Linked DNA regions of Homo sapiens: region 2 is linked to region 1. A link means that fine-mapping ties the variant in region 1 to the expression of a gene that starts in the linked region. Tissue or cell type: whole blood. Region 1 holds a variant in brackets; the other region holds the start of a gene. All regions are shown on one strand. Distances are between the middles of the regions.

Evidence for each region. PIP is the estimated chance that this variant, and not a neighbour inherited with it, causes the effect.
Region 2: DUSP6 starts here. The variant in region 1 is fine-mapped to the expression of DUSP6 in whole blood (INTERVAL, PIP 0.94).

Annotation. Positions count from the first base shown.
Region 1 is chr12:89,097,755-89,105,859 of GRCh38, forward strand. No RefSeq gene overlaps it. Among named protein-coding and RNA genes, the nearest start is that of LINC02458, 82 kb to the left of the region's middle. The variant A/G (reference allele first, on the strand shown) is at 4,386.
Region 2 is chr12:89,348,507-89,356,611 of GRCh38, forward strand. It overlaps DUSP6 (dual specificity phosphatase 6), which reads right to left and starts at 3,995. Exons shown (of 3, transcript NM_001946.4): 1 at 3,134-3,995; 2 at 2,082-2,519; 3 at 1-1,055. The coding sequence starts at 3,533. The coding sequence ends at 748. POC1B-DUSP6 (POC1B-DUSP6 readthrough) reads right to left here. Exons shown (of 11, transcript NR_189589.1): 10 at 2,082-2,519; 11 at 1-1,055. RefSeq lists enhancers at 1,217-1,851, 2,487-3,121, 6,171-6,220 and a silencer at 4,941-5,250.

The sequences.
Region 1 (8,105 bases):
TTCTGAGTGTTCACTTTGTGCAGGGTAATATTCAAGATCCTAGGACTACAATTCTACACAAAATAGACAAAATCTCTGCCCTTGTGGAAATTATATTCCAGTTTCACACATGTGGCCAAGGCAGAGCAGCTTGCAAGGTGGCCTGGACCTGTTGCAATACCTTCTTTTGTTCTGGGCATCACTCAAAACTAGCCACTTTTTGGGTCACCCTGATGGCGTAGCACCATCAAATGAGGTATATACCGTCTCCAAAATCCAAAGTGTTTAATATCTTTTTAGGATGTGGGAGTGACCAGATGCAACAACTTATCCTTTACCTTAGAAGAGATATCTTGGCGTGTCTCACACAATTAGAAGCACAGAAATTTCAATTCAATGGAAGACCCCCAGAATTTTGTGGGATTTATTTTCCACCTTCTGGCAGGCAAATGTCTTACCAATATGGCTAGAGTAATTGTTACTTCATGCTCACCAGGTCGAATCAGCATAATAGTGACGTCCCATGGAAGGGATTTAGATTGCATTTTTGGGTTAGGGTGGGTATTTAATGTTAGGTGTGCTTAATACAGTTCTACGTCAGAGGTGATCCTCAACAAATGTTACTTATTGTTCTGCTCAGAATCCCTCCTGTACATCAGGATCTGACCCAAGCCCAGCAGAGGTGGAGGAAAGCTGCATATGGAATCCTTTCTGTACAAATTGCTCTGGGTTTTCCTTTCCCTATTTACCATCAGAATGTTGCTCACAAAGATGTGAATGAACATTTAACGCTAGACCCCAATAAATATTTCTCAAATTAAAGCACCATTTAATTGCATCTCAGCAGTGCTCCCTTGTGAGCACCCATTAGGCATAATGAATAATTCATAGACTTCCTAGGGTGCATTCTGCTCGTCTGAAGTACAAGAAGAAATAACGAAATAATGAGGCGATTGCTTTTCAGCGCCCTCCAACTCCACTCCACCCCTGCCACTTTGCAATGTGTGGGACGTACCTGCCTGGCTGGGCAAGAAAGGCTGCAGGACAAGCAGGTTGGGGAAAGTGCATGTCATCCTGAGCAGGTTAAGCTTGAGTCTGGACCCATCCCCCAACCCCCACGTTTTCCTAGCATAGGAAGACTATCTGGAGGCCTCTGCCCTCCCCTGACACTTGGCAGCCGCTGCTTCCTGGGCTTCGCAGTGCAGCTGGCTCTCCAGGCACTGGGTAAAACAGAAGTCAGGCTGGGGGTGGCGGGGACTTTCCTAAAGGAATCGCGTGCAAAGGGCTGACAGCATGGCATCCACAGGCTGCAGCAAGTGCCCAAACCCAGAAATCCGACAGCCACAGTGGCAGCCAGAAGGCTCTTTTCTCACAGTGGAACTGCAGGGGGTGGGGGGAGGGGAAATGATAAAAGAATTTTCTTTTTTAATTTTTGCGATTTTTCATCCATCTCAATGCATCAGCTGTTTGGCAGCAGCACAAGTCAGAGACATATGTCCATCGGATTTACTCCTTTTTCACTGCTTCCATTGAAGGCCAAGAAATTCTTCCACTGTGACTTCCTCCCCCATTCCGGAAAGGAAGTCCTTAGAACTTTTGCCTGTAGGACCCCAAATGTCGCAAGCCCTTAGAACAGTGGTCCCTAACCTTTTTAGCACCAGGGACAGGTTTCATGGAAGACAATTTTTCCACTACCGTGGGGAGGGGGGTATGCTCCACCTCAGATCATCAGGCATTAGTTAGACTCTCATAAGGAGGACAACCTTGATCCCTCACATGCACAGTTCACAATAGGGTTCGCGCTCCTATGAGAATCTAATGCCGCTACTGATCTGACAGGAGGCGGAGCTCAGGAGAGCAGCCTGGGAGTTGGGGAGCCCTGCCTTAGAACTTGCCTATAGGACCCCAGATGGAGAACAGGCCATGGATTGTTCCTCTTCACCCCAGACCCTTCCTGCCCCTTCATATTTAATCCATTATAATAGCTATCATTTATACAAGGGCAACTATATGTCTACAAGAATGATTTCACCTAATACCCATGAGATCCATACTGTTATTATTGCCATTTTACAGATCAGAATGCTGAAGCTTACGTAGGTGAGTTTGTCTAAGGCCGCATAGCTAGAAAGCAATGACGCTAGGATCACAAACCGGGAAATCTGAATCCAGAAACAGAACTCTCAAATTCCCATGTTCTCCCCACCTCACCCCTGTTTTGACTGATATCATCTCTTCAATTTGTTTCTTTTTAAATTTCAACCCCAGTTTGTGATTTGACCTAGGCGAATGACAAGCTCTGTATCTTTGTTTGCTATTTAGTAATAAGAATAAAGAATGCATGGGAATCTGTAAGCTTAGTTCTTTGACCCTTTTAAGTTTTCCTTGTTTTTTGAAATTTTTCTTGGAGCTGTATGAAATACGATAGCACAAAAAAAAAACAGTATGGTCTAGATTGTCAAGAAACTCAGCAATATCATATGCAAAAACCAGTGCATCCAGGTACTAGACTGGAATCCTCTGGACTTGAAGTCAGAATGCCTGGATTTTAGTAAGTACTGCCTCTGCTCCCTGCTGTGTGGACGTACCCAGGTAAATCGTTTACCTCGCTGAGCTTAGTTTCCTTATCAATAAAGTGAAGAAAGATGTAATATCTACCTAGCCAGTATCATTGTGAAGATTAAATAGAGTAAGTTGTGTGAGATGCTGTTTGCTATTTAGCCTTCTCTTCTGCCACCTTTATAGTCAGTGCTATGTAACCAAGGGAAAGCAAGGCAGTGGGCGAAGAGAACAAGAAAGATAAAGTTGCTGCTAAGAAAAGAAGCATAATAGCTCTCAGGAGAACCTACTATTTCTCCCTTCCTCTGGGAATCTCCTGGGAAGCCCCCACTATTCCCAGGACCAGCACCAGCCACTCCCAGCTGGCCCTTCCCCCATTCTCAGCTCTCCAGAAGGGCCCTGCTTCAGGATAAGGTCACATTCCAGTTACCCCAATTTCAAAAGTCAGCTCTAAATCATAAACTATCTTCCTCATTTCCTTGACATAGGCAGCCTACCAAATGAGCAAGAGAAAATGCCCACCATCAGTTCATTGGTGACATAAAAAGAGTAAAAATATGTGCTCCCTGATTGGGCAGAAAAAGCTAGGTTGTGGGGTTCTCATGTGTTCCCCTTTCCACCCTAAATCATAATCAGAAATGGAGGCAAACAATGAAATTAAACCTTCATGGGTTGGTTTGTTGCAGGTAGGTTGAACAAAGAAAAGAAAAAAACAAAAGATACTTAAAACTTCTGGAAATGATTATAGCCGAAGAGGATAGATGGCTTTCTCTCAGTTTATCTCTGGGGAACATCTTTGACCTTTGTTTCTTCATTGCCCTCCTTATTCCCCGCAGAAGAGTCATTACGTTGTCCTGAAAATCAATACCGGGTAGGCAGCAGTCTTTACCCTTCCATCCCGCGGCATTCACAACTTGCGTGGCAACCCCTCAGATGCATGTCTCCCCTCTCCCCGCCTCCATTGCTCTTATCCTTCTCTCTCTATTTCATTTTTCTTGCTGTTGCTAATCTCTCCCATGTTATGATTACAGTTTCTGGCTTGTCTCAAATAAGAAGAGATTTCAAGACTTTGTCACATCCTCCATGCCTACATAGGGCTTTCCCAGGTCCTTTTTTGTTGTTGGATATGGATATCTTTTTAAATGGAGGAAGGAAGGAAAAGAAGAAGACAGGCAAATTTGTGGCATTAAACACAAACTGAAGCAGGACAGGGCAGGGCAGGCATGTGGGAGAAAAAGCCTAAGGCCACCTGTTTGGAATAGATTAGTGAGGTTTAAACAAAAACATCCCCAAGCCTCCACTCAACCTCCAGGAAAATGGTGCATTTTCCGATTGCTTACTCCCACGCTTCATTCTGTGAAGGGGAAATAAAGAGAGGATGACTTGAGAGCAGATGGGGGCAAGGCTATCTCAGAGGAAGATCGGGGCTCACGGGGTGGTCCACAGTTTTTTACACAGTTGGAGAGTAGGACAGGAAGCAGCAGCTGCAGCAGCCTGCCTCTGCTGAAAAACTGCCTGATGACCCAGAACTAAAGATTTCATTTTATGGGGCAGTGCCCCACCTTCCTGAGACAGGACATTCATCTACTTTTTCAGGATAGTACCCATGCCATACTGATGGTACTCTTGAGCCGAAAAGGCAACATAAAGAAGCTGACCAAAAACGATTGTAAATTGGCAAATGCAGTTGTATAAAACACATCTTATATAAATATATTTACATGAAAAATAAATCACTTTATTACAAAATAATACAATTAAGGATGTCCTAGAAAAATCTGGAACATTTATATGTTGTATCCATACCTGTAATCACTTCTGCTCCCTTCAGGCATGTGCCTGTGCGC[A/G]CACACACACACACACACTAGCACATACTTAAACTGTCTGGCTATGTGATTTTCTTAAAATTGCTTATCCTGATAATTGATATATTCCAATCATGTCCTCCTGGAGAAAACTATAATCCCTAAGAAGGTCCTTATTAATGAACTTGTAATGCCTGGCTGATGGGGAAGATGGCCACAGTAGGTTATGGTTATGCTGACATTTAGACAGATTGGCTTGGCCTTCAAATCTCATGGTATTGGAACAGATTGTTGGCTGAAGTCTGAATTGATACAAACTACAGTTTTCTGGAGAAGTTTGGTGATATTAAATATCCATTCCCTTTGACCTGATGATTCCAATTTTAGAATGTTTGAGGGTTTTTGTAACAGGAGTGTTTTCAGAATGAAAACTGAAAACAACCTAAATGTGCATCAATAAGAGATTGGTTAAGTAATTATATAAAACATGATATAGATCCACACACATTAACATGGAAAGATGTTCCCAATATATAGCTTAAAGGGAAATGGAGATTACAGATAATATGTACAATATGACTGAAATATATATTATATATAATATGTTATATATATATCATATATTATATATCTTCACATCCTGCTTAGGCATAGGAAAAAGTCTACAACAAAATATTAACAGAGTTATATCTGGATGGTGTGATTATACCTAATACTCTTTTTTTTTTTTTGAGATGGGATTTTGCTCCGTTGCCCAGGCTAGAATGCAGTGATATGATCATAGCTCACTCTAACCTTGAACTCCTAGGCTCCAGGGATCCTCCTGCATCAGCCTTCTGAGTAACTAGGACGACAAATGCATACCTCCACACCTGGCCATTTCTTTTTGTAGAGATGGGGGTCTCCCTGTGTTACCAAAGCTGGTCTTGAACTTCTGACCTCAAGCTATCTTCCTACCATGGACCCCCAGAGTGCTGATATTATAGGTGTGAGCCATTACGCCTGCCCCTACCAGTACCTTTTTCCTTTTTTTTTTTTTTTTTTTGAGATGGAGTTTTGCTCTTGTTGCCCAAGCTGTAGTGCAATGGCACGATCTCAGCTCACTGCAACCTCCGCCTCCCAGGTTCAAGTGATTCTCCTGCCTCAGCCTCCTGAGTAGCTGGGATTATAGGCATGCGCCATCACGCCCGGCAAATTTTTGCATTTTTAGTAGAGACAGGGTTTCACTGTGTTAGCCAGAATGGTCTCGATCTCCTGACCTCATGATCCGCCCGCCTCGCCTCCCAAAGTTCTGGGATTACAGGCATGAGCCACCACGCCCGGCCTCCAGTACTCTTTTTTAATCCAGACGTTTATCTGCATTTTCTGATTACTTTTGCATTAAGAAAGTATTACTCTATATTCAGAAAACATAATAAAGCCATTCTAAACAAATTACACTAGGATGGGCTTCCTTATCTACTCTGCATTGCCGGTCTCACTTCTAAGTACACAAGATCAGTTCATCAAAGGCAGTCAGTCCTTCTGAGGCCAGCTGAGAATGATGTGGAGGGGTTGTTATTCTCCATAATGTGGATCTGCTGTCAAGCAGATCATGCCATATCTGCAGTCAAAGAGACCTCTAAGATGTGTTTTAAATTCTGACTCTTTGGCATTTTGGCAGTACTGTATACTAAGCAGCAAGATGAGGACCAATTAATTCCACAAATTCAACTATGACTAATTTTTAATCAATGAATTGGCTCTTTAACTTGGGCTTTTGGGAAACACAAAGAGGGAGCAATTTATTGAGAGTTGCCCTGAGATCATTTACCGAGATTTTAAGTGTGTATGTCCTCACACATGCACACACATACACACACACACACACATCTCTGTACTATGGTGACATTTAGTATATTCTTGGATGTGTTGTTCTTTTCCAGCAATTTCTGTTATTGCATATCAGGCAGCAATTGAGGCATTCCGAGCTTTTGCCTAGATAATGACTCAACAGAACAAAGCAGCCAATTCTTGACTTTTGAATTTCGAAAATTTTTTTGACACTCACGGCAGACACAATGGCATAAGAGGGAAAAAAATCAATGAAAGAAAAATAGAATCGAAGAAAAACTAAGAAGTTCTTAGTCTGGTCCGTATTTCTGAGAAAACCCGATGTATCTGGCCCTTTCCCCCAGTCTAAGTCAGGACACTGAGAGGACAAAATAAAACCCAAAGGTCAGTTTGGGAGTCGGAGAACAAAAATAGCACATGCCTTGTTTCCCAGGTGAAGTTTGGGATATGGGAGGGTCTACCCCAGCATAGGAAGACAACAGTAGAGTGTCATGGCTGTAATATATGTATAAGCAGATGGGCCTATGGCAGGTTCACAGAGGCACACCCTAGCATCACCCCAGCAACATGGGGTGCAACATGATGCATACACCCCAGCAACACGGCAAGCAGCCAAGAGCAACACACACACATGTGACATTGGGTTGCAATGAGCTCCAAGAAACCTTGCCATTGGAATAAGGGGATACCTGAGTGTCCATTTGCACTGCCGTAACAAAATATCACAAAATGGGTAATTTGTAAACAATAGGAATTTATTTCTTATGGTACTGGAGGCTGAGGAGTCCGAGATCAAGGTGCCAGCTGGTTTGGTATCCAGTGAGGGTTGCTGTCTGCTTCCAAGATGATGCCTTGCTGCTGCATCCCCCAGAGGGACAAACACAAACACTGCTTTCTCATGTGGTAGAAGGGACAGAAAGGCAAAAAGGGGCTGAGCTCACTCCCTCAATCTGTTTTACCTAAGGACACTAATCCCATCCTTGAGGGCAGAGCCCTCATAACCTAATCACATCCCAAAGGCCCCACCTCTTAATACTGTTGCAATGGGGATTAAGTTTCAACATAAATTTTGGAGGGGACATGAATATTCAAACCATAGCAGGGGGCATAGTAACCTTTCCCTGATGCTTTGATATTATTTTTGCCCCCCAAATGTAAATGCAAAATCAAGAAGGAAACAGGAAGAATAAAATAACATATCTACTGAAATTACCTTGAATTTACTAAGCTTAGGTTGCCACCGCTTGCTAAATGAAGAATTTAGTTAGAAATAAATTCAACTCTATTTAATTAGTTTTGAATGGCAAAAACTGCAATTTCTTTTGCACCAATCTAATAGAAAATTAGAAAAATCAATATAAAACTTGTGTTTTTCCTGAGTATTGTACCTGATTTAAATAAGCTAGGGATGCCAACTGAGGGATTCTTCGCCACCTAAGGAATTCTTGGCCACAGCCTGAGCTATATTATTGGCATAACTCTTTCTAATCTTAATGACCAACCCCACTATATTTGTAGAGTCCTTGGCTGGGTACATACTTATCAGCCTAGCTTCACAGTCAAAATAAGCCTCACACAGACCACTGTATCTTTCTGGGCCCTCCCTAAGAACAAGTATCCTTGGATAGGCCCCTTTATCATAATTGCAAGGGCCTGTACATCTGCCCATTATTTGGTATGAAAAAAATGATTTTGGAGTAAAATGCCACTATTCTGAAGGAGTTTTTCTATTTTCTTTTTAAAAACTCTTTCCAATCCCCTGGCTCCACCCAGCATACACACAACACACACATACACACACACACACACTCACACACATTTCTCTCAACATATGTGTTCCCCCAACAAACAGACACAAACATCTTGACCTTTACATCCAAATGTGGTCCCCAGAAAACCAAAAGAAGTAAACATAAAGCAGTTATCTCT
Region 2 (8,105 bases), 250 kb after region 1:
GACTTCGCCATAACAAGGTCTTAGTGATAATAGTGTCCGTAAAGATGTCATCAGAATTGGTAAAGTCAAGCATGCTGCAAATATACCCTTTGGATTAGAAAAGAGCACAATTTTCTTTTTTTGTTTTGTTCTGTTTTAAGAAGTGGCATACTGCTCTTTCTCCCTTTGGATAATTTCTTTTAAGCCCATCAAAGGAAAAAACAAACACAATTCAAACAAACACTGTCAAGTGATTCAAGATCAAATATTTACAATAATCAAATGGAGTATCAGATTTTTTTTTCCAAACTGATACCACAAATACAGAGCTGAAATCTCTCTTTGGCTCCTCTATATGCAAAATTGAATTAGTCTTCATTGAAGACAATTATATAGTCAGTTCCAGATGCAAAAGGAAACAGCCTTACAAGGCCCTAAAGAACACATGCTCCTACCCTATCATTTGGTTCTACCCTATGCGCCTGGAAGTCCTCGAATCCCAGTCCCTGCATGGGTAGGCTGTACACATGGGTACAGAGCAAACCTACTGCCTGTATCTATACAGCATGTCCTGTTATTCCAAAGAGAATGGAGCAAATCTCTCTGTTAGTATTAACCAATTCCGCACTTGGTAACCTTGTCTAGTACAGACAGCTGGTGTCATTTTGACACCTGGGGCCACACACAAAGAAAGCAGCCCAGCTGATGCTGCCAAGAGAAACTGCTGAAGGGCCAGACACATTCCAGCAAGGAGGGGTGTGGGGTCTTTCACGTAGATTGCAGAGAGTCCACCTGGTATACATTCTGGTTGGAAGGGGTGGTAAAATACAGCTGCTGTGCTGGAACCCTGTTGTCACATGGGCTGCTGAGTCCCAGCGTCCTCTCGAAGTCCAGCAGCTGACCCATGAAGTTGAAGTTAGGGGATATGTTGGATTTTTTCATTTTGACAATGTCATAGGCATCGTTCATCGACAGATTGAGCTTCTGCATAAGGTAAGCCACAGTCACAGTGACTGAGCGGCTAATGCCAGCCAAGCAATGTACCAAGACACCACAGTTCTTGCCCCGGGCTTCATCTGTGAACACAAAAAGAAAAGCAAGATCTCAGCAGACTGAAAACCACCCTTTGTGAATGATCAGTCTAAAAACTGAACTTGAAAACATAATAATAATAATAGTTGTGTGTGGCAGTTGAGCCCTACAAGCAGCAGAAAATGTATCACTGAAATGAAACATGTACACTGGACACAATTACATATTTCAGATATTTTCTGAAAAGAGAGCTTTTGTATTAAGTTTCTGCCAACAAAAAACTCCTTAATGGGTGCATTCTTTGCCTCGGCATGTGAATACCAGAAACCCTGCAATATGTTCGTGAATGCCTTTTACACAGACAACCAGACTGCAAGGGTCTATTAAATTATGCTCCAAATGTTGTGCAGCTAACAATGGAGGTATTCAGGCATTTTAAAAGAGAGAGGGAAGTCACAGGGGACGGCCCATTAGGAGGAACAGGATGTCGACACGGCCTGAAAATGAGTTCCTTTGTAATAGGAAATGCATTACAATGCCTGGAGATTCACTTCTCCCAGGCTTCCAGCCCACAGTTCTTCCTGCTGGGCTCAGGTTACCCACTGTCTCACTGTTACCAGTATCACCGCATCATTCAACTGGATAACATTCAGCATTCATACTGCTTTCCAACAACTAACTTGATGTCCTAAAATAACTCCTAGATGTTTTTAAATTATAAAGCAATGCTGGAATTCCTGTCTATAGTGAGTACTTCTATCTGACCCTTCCCCTGAGTCCAAAGACTGGGGGGAAAAATCTGTTGTCCGATTATGAACGACTGTCAATGACTGAATTCAAAGATTCAAGAAACAGCGTTTCAAATACACCTGTGATCTGCAGCCATGTCAAAAGGCAGGTTTTCTTCCTTTAGCAAGAAGATAAACCAGAATTAAGGACGCTCTAGGAACATTAGAGACCTGCAGTCAGACAAATTAGCAAGCAGCAAGAACGATTAACAGCTTAAACTCTATGAATGGCTAGGAATTTTGCATTTAAATGTCAGAGCGACGACTATTAATTAGTCTCACCTATGAAAGAAATGGCCTCAGGGAAAAACTGGGACAGGTTTTGGCTCCAGTGATCCGAGATGGGGATTTGCTTGTATTTAAACTCTCCTGCGTTCTCAAAGAGATTCGGCAAATTGGGGGTGACGTTCAAGATGTACTTGATGCCGAATTCCTCCAACACGTCCAAGTTGGTGGAGTCTTTGGCACAGCCCAAGTAGAGGAAGGGCAAGATCTCCACTGGGAAGGAAGGCTGGCTGTTGGACAGCGGACTACCATCCGAGTCTGTTGCACTATTGGGGTCTCGGTCAAGGTCAGACTCGATGTCCGAGGAAGAGTCAGAGCTGATCCGCAGGCCCCCGAGCCCCAGCACTGGCAACGGCGGCGAGCTGCTGCTACACGAGCCGTCTAGATTGGTCTCGCAATGCAGGGAGAACTCGGCTTGGAACTTACTGAAGCCACCTGCCAGAACGAGAAAAGCAATCATCTAACCTGAGAAGCCGTAGTAGTTTTCACAGCTTGTAAGAACCGCAGCCCGGCGCAAGAAACACCACAAGCATCCTACGAACCCCCTACATACAGAACCATCTATAAGAGAAACACACTTTAAATGTGCACCATCGGGAATGGAACGAACGGGCCCGCCTCGCCAGGGAACCCTTATTCGCTTGAATCCGGAAATAGACAAAATGGCAACTTTTTGGAATATTTTGAGAGCTAAGATGTGCCAATTTGCATCCCCAACAATCTCTCCCGTCCTGCAAATCTTAATTCAAAATCGAACGATAGAAAACAGGGTGATGGTGGAGGATGTTCTGGCTAAGAAGGCGCAGAACCCGTTAGAAAGAAACCGCCGGTACCCGCAGCCGGAAGCGAGTGGATTCTGAGCCGGCCCGGTTCTCTGGTGCGGAACGCGCGGTTCGCGGCCCCTACCTCGCCGGCTGCCGGTCCCTAGGCGGGCAGCGCGGCTCCGAAGCTCCAGCTGAGCGGAGCAGAGGTATTTTCAATCCACGCGCCCCGCCCGCAGCCCTGCGCCCCTAGCCCTGCCCCGCGCGCGGAGTTCCCTGGGCGCGTACCTTCCAGGTAGAACGCCCGGCAGCCCTCGTCCTTGAGCTTCTTGAGCAGCAGCCCGAGCACCGACTCGCCGCCCGTATTCTCGTTCCAGTCGCTGCTGCTCTCGTCGTAGAGCACCACTGTGTCGGTGCCACAGCGCCGGGTGAAGCGGTCCCGGTCCTCGCCGCGCGTGAAGAGCGCGCGCACCGGCAGGTTACCCTTCTGCAGGCGCCGCAGCATGATGCCCGGGATGGCCACGTTGATGGCCGACTCGATGTGCGACGACTCGTATAGCTCCTGCGGCCGGCAGTCCATCAGCAGCAGCCGCTCGTTGCCCAGCTCCAGCTGCTCGTTGAGCCACGCCACCGTCTTGCTGATCGCCATTTCCGACGCGAAGGGCACGGGTCTGAGCGTATCTATCATGGGGGTCGAGCTGCGGGAGAGGGCGGGGTGCCTACCAGACGCCCCTCGGGGCAGGCATAGGCCGAGCGCACCGCGCGCGAAGCTGCCGCTCTCGGAGCGGGGTTTAATTCCGCCTCGCCTTACCCAAGCCGAGGCTAGCGGTTGGGGCAGACGAGACAGAAGTAAAGCCGGAGGTTCTCTCTGCACCCAGCTGCAGCCGCTGGCTCTTAGTGTCAATGAATCTCTCTCAATGAAGCTGCCCAGATAGTTTTTGTTCCTCCCCAGTGAATGAAATCCAATTAATTCGGACTCCGTGCTACTGAGAGGGGAGGAAAAAAAGTCTAGCGGCTTCTAATCCCTCCCTCCAAGGCTGCACCTCAAATCTACCCGGGCGTCTTTCTCCCCGGATTATTTAAGACTCGATTTGCTATCTCTTGGACTCAGCCTCGCACACCCCCTGCGCGAGGCAGCTCCTCAATGGATACAAACAGCGAGCGTCTCAATGGATACATTCTCCGGGCCAGCCAATGAGCGTGCTGCGGAAGGGGCTGTTGCCGTGGGGACGGGCCGGCTGGAACAGGTTGTGTTGATGAATTGTTAATGAGTTTGTCATTCACAAAAACGGAAAGGAATTTCCGCTCCGGATAAGCCCCAGTGCAAACAAGCTGCAACAGCGGGCTCGGCGGGAGGAAGGAGAAAGAAGGGGAGGCGGCAGCGGAGGAGGAGCAGGGCACATAAACCAGGGCACTTCAGTTGTCTCATGTTTCCTTCTGTTGAGAGTTCACACTTCGCGTCGGAACTTTTGCGCACCAATGGCGCAATTAGCATGCACAAAAGCCCTTGTTCGCGACGCTTGCGTTCGCGAGCTAGCTTTAGGAAAACTTGTGCTGACTTTTCGTTCTTTGTATTCCCTTCAAACTCATTTGGACCCAAGTTCGCCTTAACCCTCCCCTCCCCCAACCCCCCTTCTTTAGGCGGTGTGTGGCATTTGTTTGCCACTTTTAAAGGCCCAGCTCTGTTTGCTCTGATGTTCTTTTAGCCGAGGCTGTGTTGGGGCTGGTGAACTGACTGGGCTTTAGTGACCGATGAGGTGTTAAATGCTAATCCAACATATTTCGAAACAAACCAGGATTTTGTTGAAACATTTTAAAGCAAACAAACAAACGTCTGGTTGTGCAGAAAATCAGAAGAAAACCTTTTTTCTTAAAATAACATTTTATTTTCATTAAAACAATGTAGAGTGCAGAAACAAACTCTTAGGTCAGTCCAGTGCTTTTACTGTATTCCGCTCCGGCGGCGTGGGGAGTTACAAGCCATTGTTCGGGGGAATCTATATCTCTCCCCCCGCCCCACCACCACCATCGCCTGCTGGGAGGTCGCGCTGGTTAATGATTTCTGGGCAAGGAGCTCGGCTTCTGACGGGGGAGCCGGTCTGGCGGGGCTGCCTGAGCGAGGTGTGCTGGGACGCGCCGGGCCGGGCCAGCAGTCCCCGCCATGGGCGAGGCGTGAGGAAGTCCTCCCGCAAGACCTGCAGGCTGCGGGGGCTCGGCAGGGGGGCTCGACGATTGGTTACAGTTGGCAGGGAGGCATGTCAGAGGGGGCCTCCCCAGCCCTCTCCTGCCGCCGCCTCCTCCCTTTGTCCAGCGCCGGGCACTCCGGGGAGCACCAGCCGCGCCTGCGCGCTGCGCTCCCTGCCACCGCCCCGCCGTCCCCGTCTCCCCGCTTGGGCACGGGGCTGTGCGCGACGCAGTGGACGGGTGCGGGGCTCAGCGAGGGACTCCCGGGTCCATAGAGATCTGGGGAGGGTGGGGGGAGCAAGGACGAGTGCCTGCCGGGACCCCCCTGGCTCCTCGCTCCCAAGGAGTCGAGGGGAACGTCTCTACCGCGCTGCAAAGCCAGCAGGTAACTTTGGGGAGGTGCGGGCCAGGCCAGCGAGCAGCACTCGGCCCAGGCGCCGCGGGGCGGACGGATTGGAAGCCGGATGGAGGCGTGGCCGGGTGGGGGCCGCGGCGGCGGGGAGGCGCGTTCCCGGCGCGCAGAGCTCTATTGTTATATAAAAGTGCCGAAGCCTGCCCCTCCCGAGCGGAAAACCACCTGTGTGCGGCCGGCGCGGCGCGAGAGGGATGCAGCCGGAAGGCGCGGGCCCTAATCCGGCCTTCCCTCCCTAAACCCCGGCGGAAAAGAGGCCGCGCTTTGTCCCACCGCTGCCTGAGAGGCGGAAGCGGGGGCAGCCGTCCGGCGGGGTGCGGCTTTGGGGAGTGTCCCTTGCTGCGCTTTGCGCCTACCGTGAACACCGCGAGGGCGCCTAAGGTCGCGGGGTCTCCCTTCGCCCGACGCCCCGCACCCACGGGCATGCCTGCTAACACCCCCGCTGCAATTTGCATTTTTAGTCACCCGCCTCTTCCCTGGTTTGGGAAATGTAGGCTAAAAAAAGGCGGCTGCGAGGCCTAGGTTGCCAATTTTGGAGCTCTGCTTCAGGCAGGCCGCCCCTGGAGGAGCGTGTTCGACAAAGGTGGGGATTGCCGAGCTCCTCTCCGCACCATTTTTGGGCAGTCCTTGGAACAAAACTCGTATATTTCACTGGGTATCTTCTAGTTTCAGCCGGGGGAGGCCTGCGCTGGAGTTGACTCCCCCTGTCCTCCACGATCTGTCACAGAAGTTCCCACCCCGAGACGTTTCAGTCATTGGGACCTGGGGACAGGGAGGGAAGAGGCAGGATGCCCTTCAGCGGAACTGAGAAGAGCAAACCTGTTGGAGGTTCAGCACAGGACCTCCAACAGAAGAGAAAGGGAGGGAAGTTGGGTTTCTACTTTGCCTGTTTTAATACGCAGCTACTTGAGTATGACTATAGATTCGGGAGGATACATCGAAACTGTAGTTTTACCCATGCTTCTGAACTTTATCGCCAAGGGAATGCCAGTGTTTCCTGGCGCATTGATTAAAGTGGCGTTCTGACTGCTCAGTACTAGAAATGCTGCGAAAAGGGCTTCTGGAGTGGGACGGCCCTCGTTTGCATTATGTCCCCCGCTTCTTCCTAGGTAAGCGCCCTTAGTTAAATCATTTAGCCGTTCTAAGTTGCAGTCTTCCACGTCGGCATAACGAAGATAAAACTATCTGCTTCATAGGGTCCCTGTGACGACAAAATGGGTACGGTGAAACGTCCTAAAGTGGTGGTGGGGTGCTATTAGCCGTTGGAATTAATTTTTCATTCTGAATTGAGGACCTGTAAAAAGGCCTCGGCTTGGGGACACGGTTTGGGCATCCCACAGATGCCCCTTGAGGCTCGCTTGACAGCCCGCCTGGACTCGCTCATCTGCAGCAAAGCCCTCTGAGATACTACCCTAACCGATTTAATCCGTTCCAATTCAGCTGTCAAGTAAAGGGGGTGTTATCGTAGACCAGGATCAAAAATCCTTTAGCACAGTTATCAGAATGGACCCAGCTACATTTCTGATTTCTCCCTACTGGTCACCTTTGGAACACGCTGTTCTCCAGCCACAGCAAACTGATACAACAATGCATATTGGGCACTTAACTGCATGATGGGTACCGTCTTGTTTCTGTGTTTACTTGCATAATTTCGGACAGTCTTCAGAAAAAACATGTAAATTATCCCATTTACAAAGATTAAAGAATTTGCCCAAGGGCACACAGTAGCAACAGAGTGTCAAGACGTGAGGCCAAACCCTTTACAGACTCTTAAGGATGCCCACATGCACGGATTACATAGAGTGTTATGGACACTATATTCACCTCCACGTGGTATTCCCTGCCCACATGTGAAGAATTTCAAGGTCAGCATTTTGAATTTTGACCTCCAGGCTTTCTCCAGCCTCACGTTTTCTGTTGCATCCTCCATGTCAAAGATCAAAAGCGAGGCTGCTTTCCCTGCTCCTTTTACACACCAGTGGTTTTCTTTGCACGCAACCCTTCATCAGTCAAACATTCACTAAATGTTGCATATTTTATCTCTCTTAGAATATGCCCTAGATCCTAATCTTCACAAGTGTCATTGGTTATCTAGTGCGTCAGCACAGCACATAAGCCTAGGTTCAAACCTCTGTCACTCAGTAGTAGTCTGGGCCTCACTTCATTCATTCATTGATGCATTTATTCTAGATTCCAGGAAAGCAGTAGAGAATAAACAGACAACAATAACCTGCCTCACTGAAGTTTACATTCTAATGAGGACAGTCCAATTAACAAAACAAATAATTATATATTAGAAAGTGAAAGCGCTATAGAGAAAAAGCAAGAAAAGGAATTCGGAAGTGTGTAACATTGGGAATATATATTCCTCCCTCAAAGGACTGTGAGGATTAGACACAACTGAGATGACACACGAGAAGTGTAGGGCACAAAGTCGGTATTCAGAAGATGATTTTTAAAATATCACCACTTCATTCCTGCATAAGGAATGCTGTTGGTGGTGATATTGCCATTCCTGTGAGGCACTGAGGAAAAGCTCTCTTAGGAGATAAGGGCTGTAGTAGTTGGAAGAATTACAGGCTTCCTTAATTCCAGAGGCCTCAGTGCCCTTCAGAGGATATCATTCATATGAAGAGGTCTGTATTTAAAAATTGGAGATAGCAG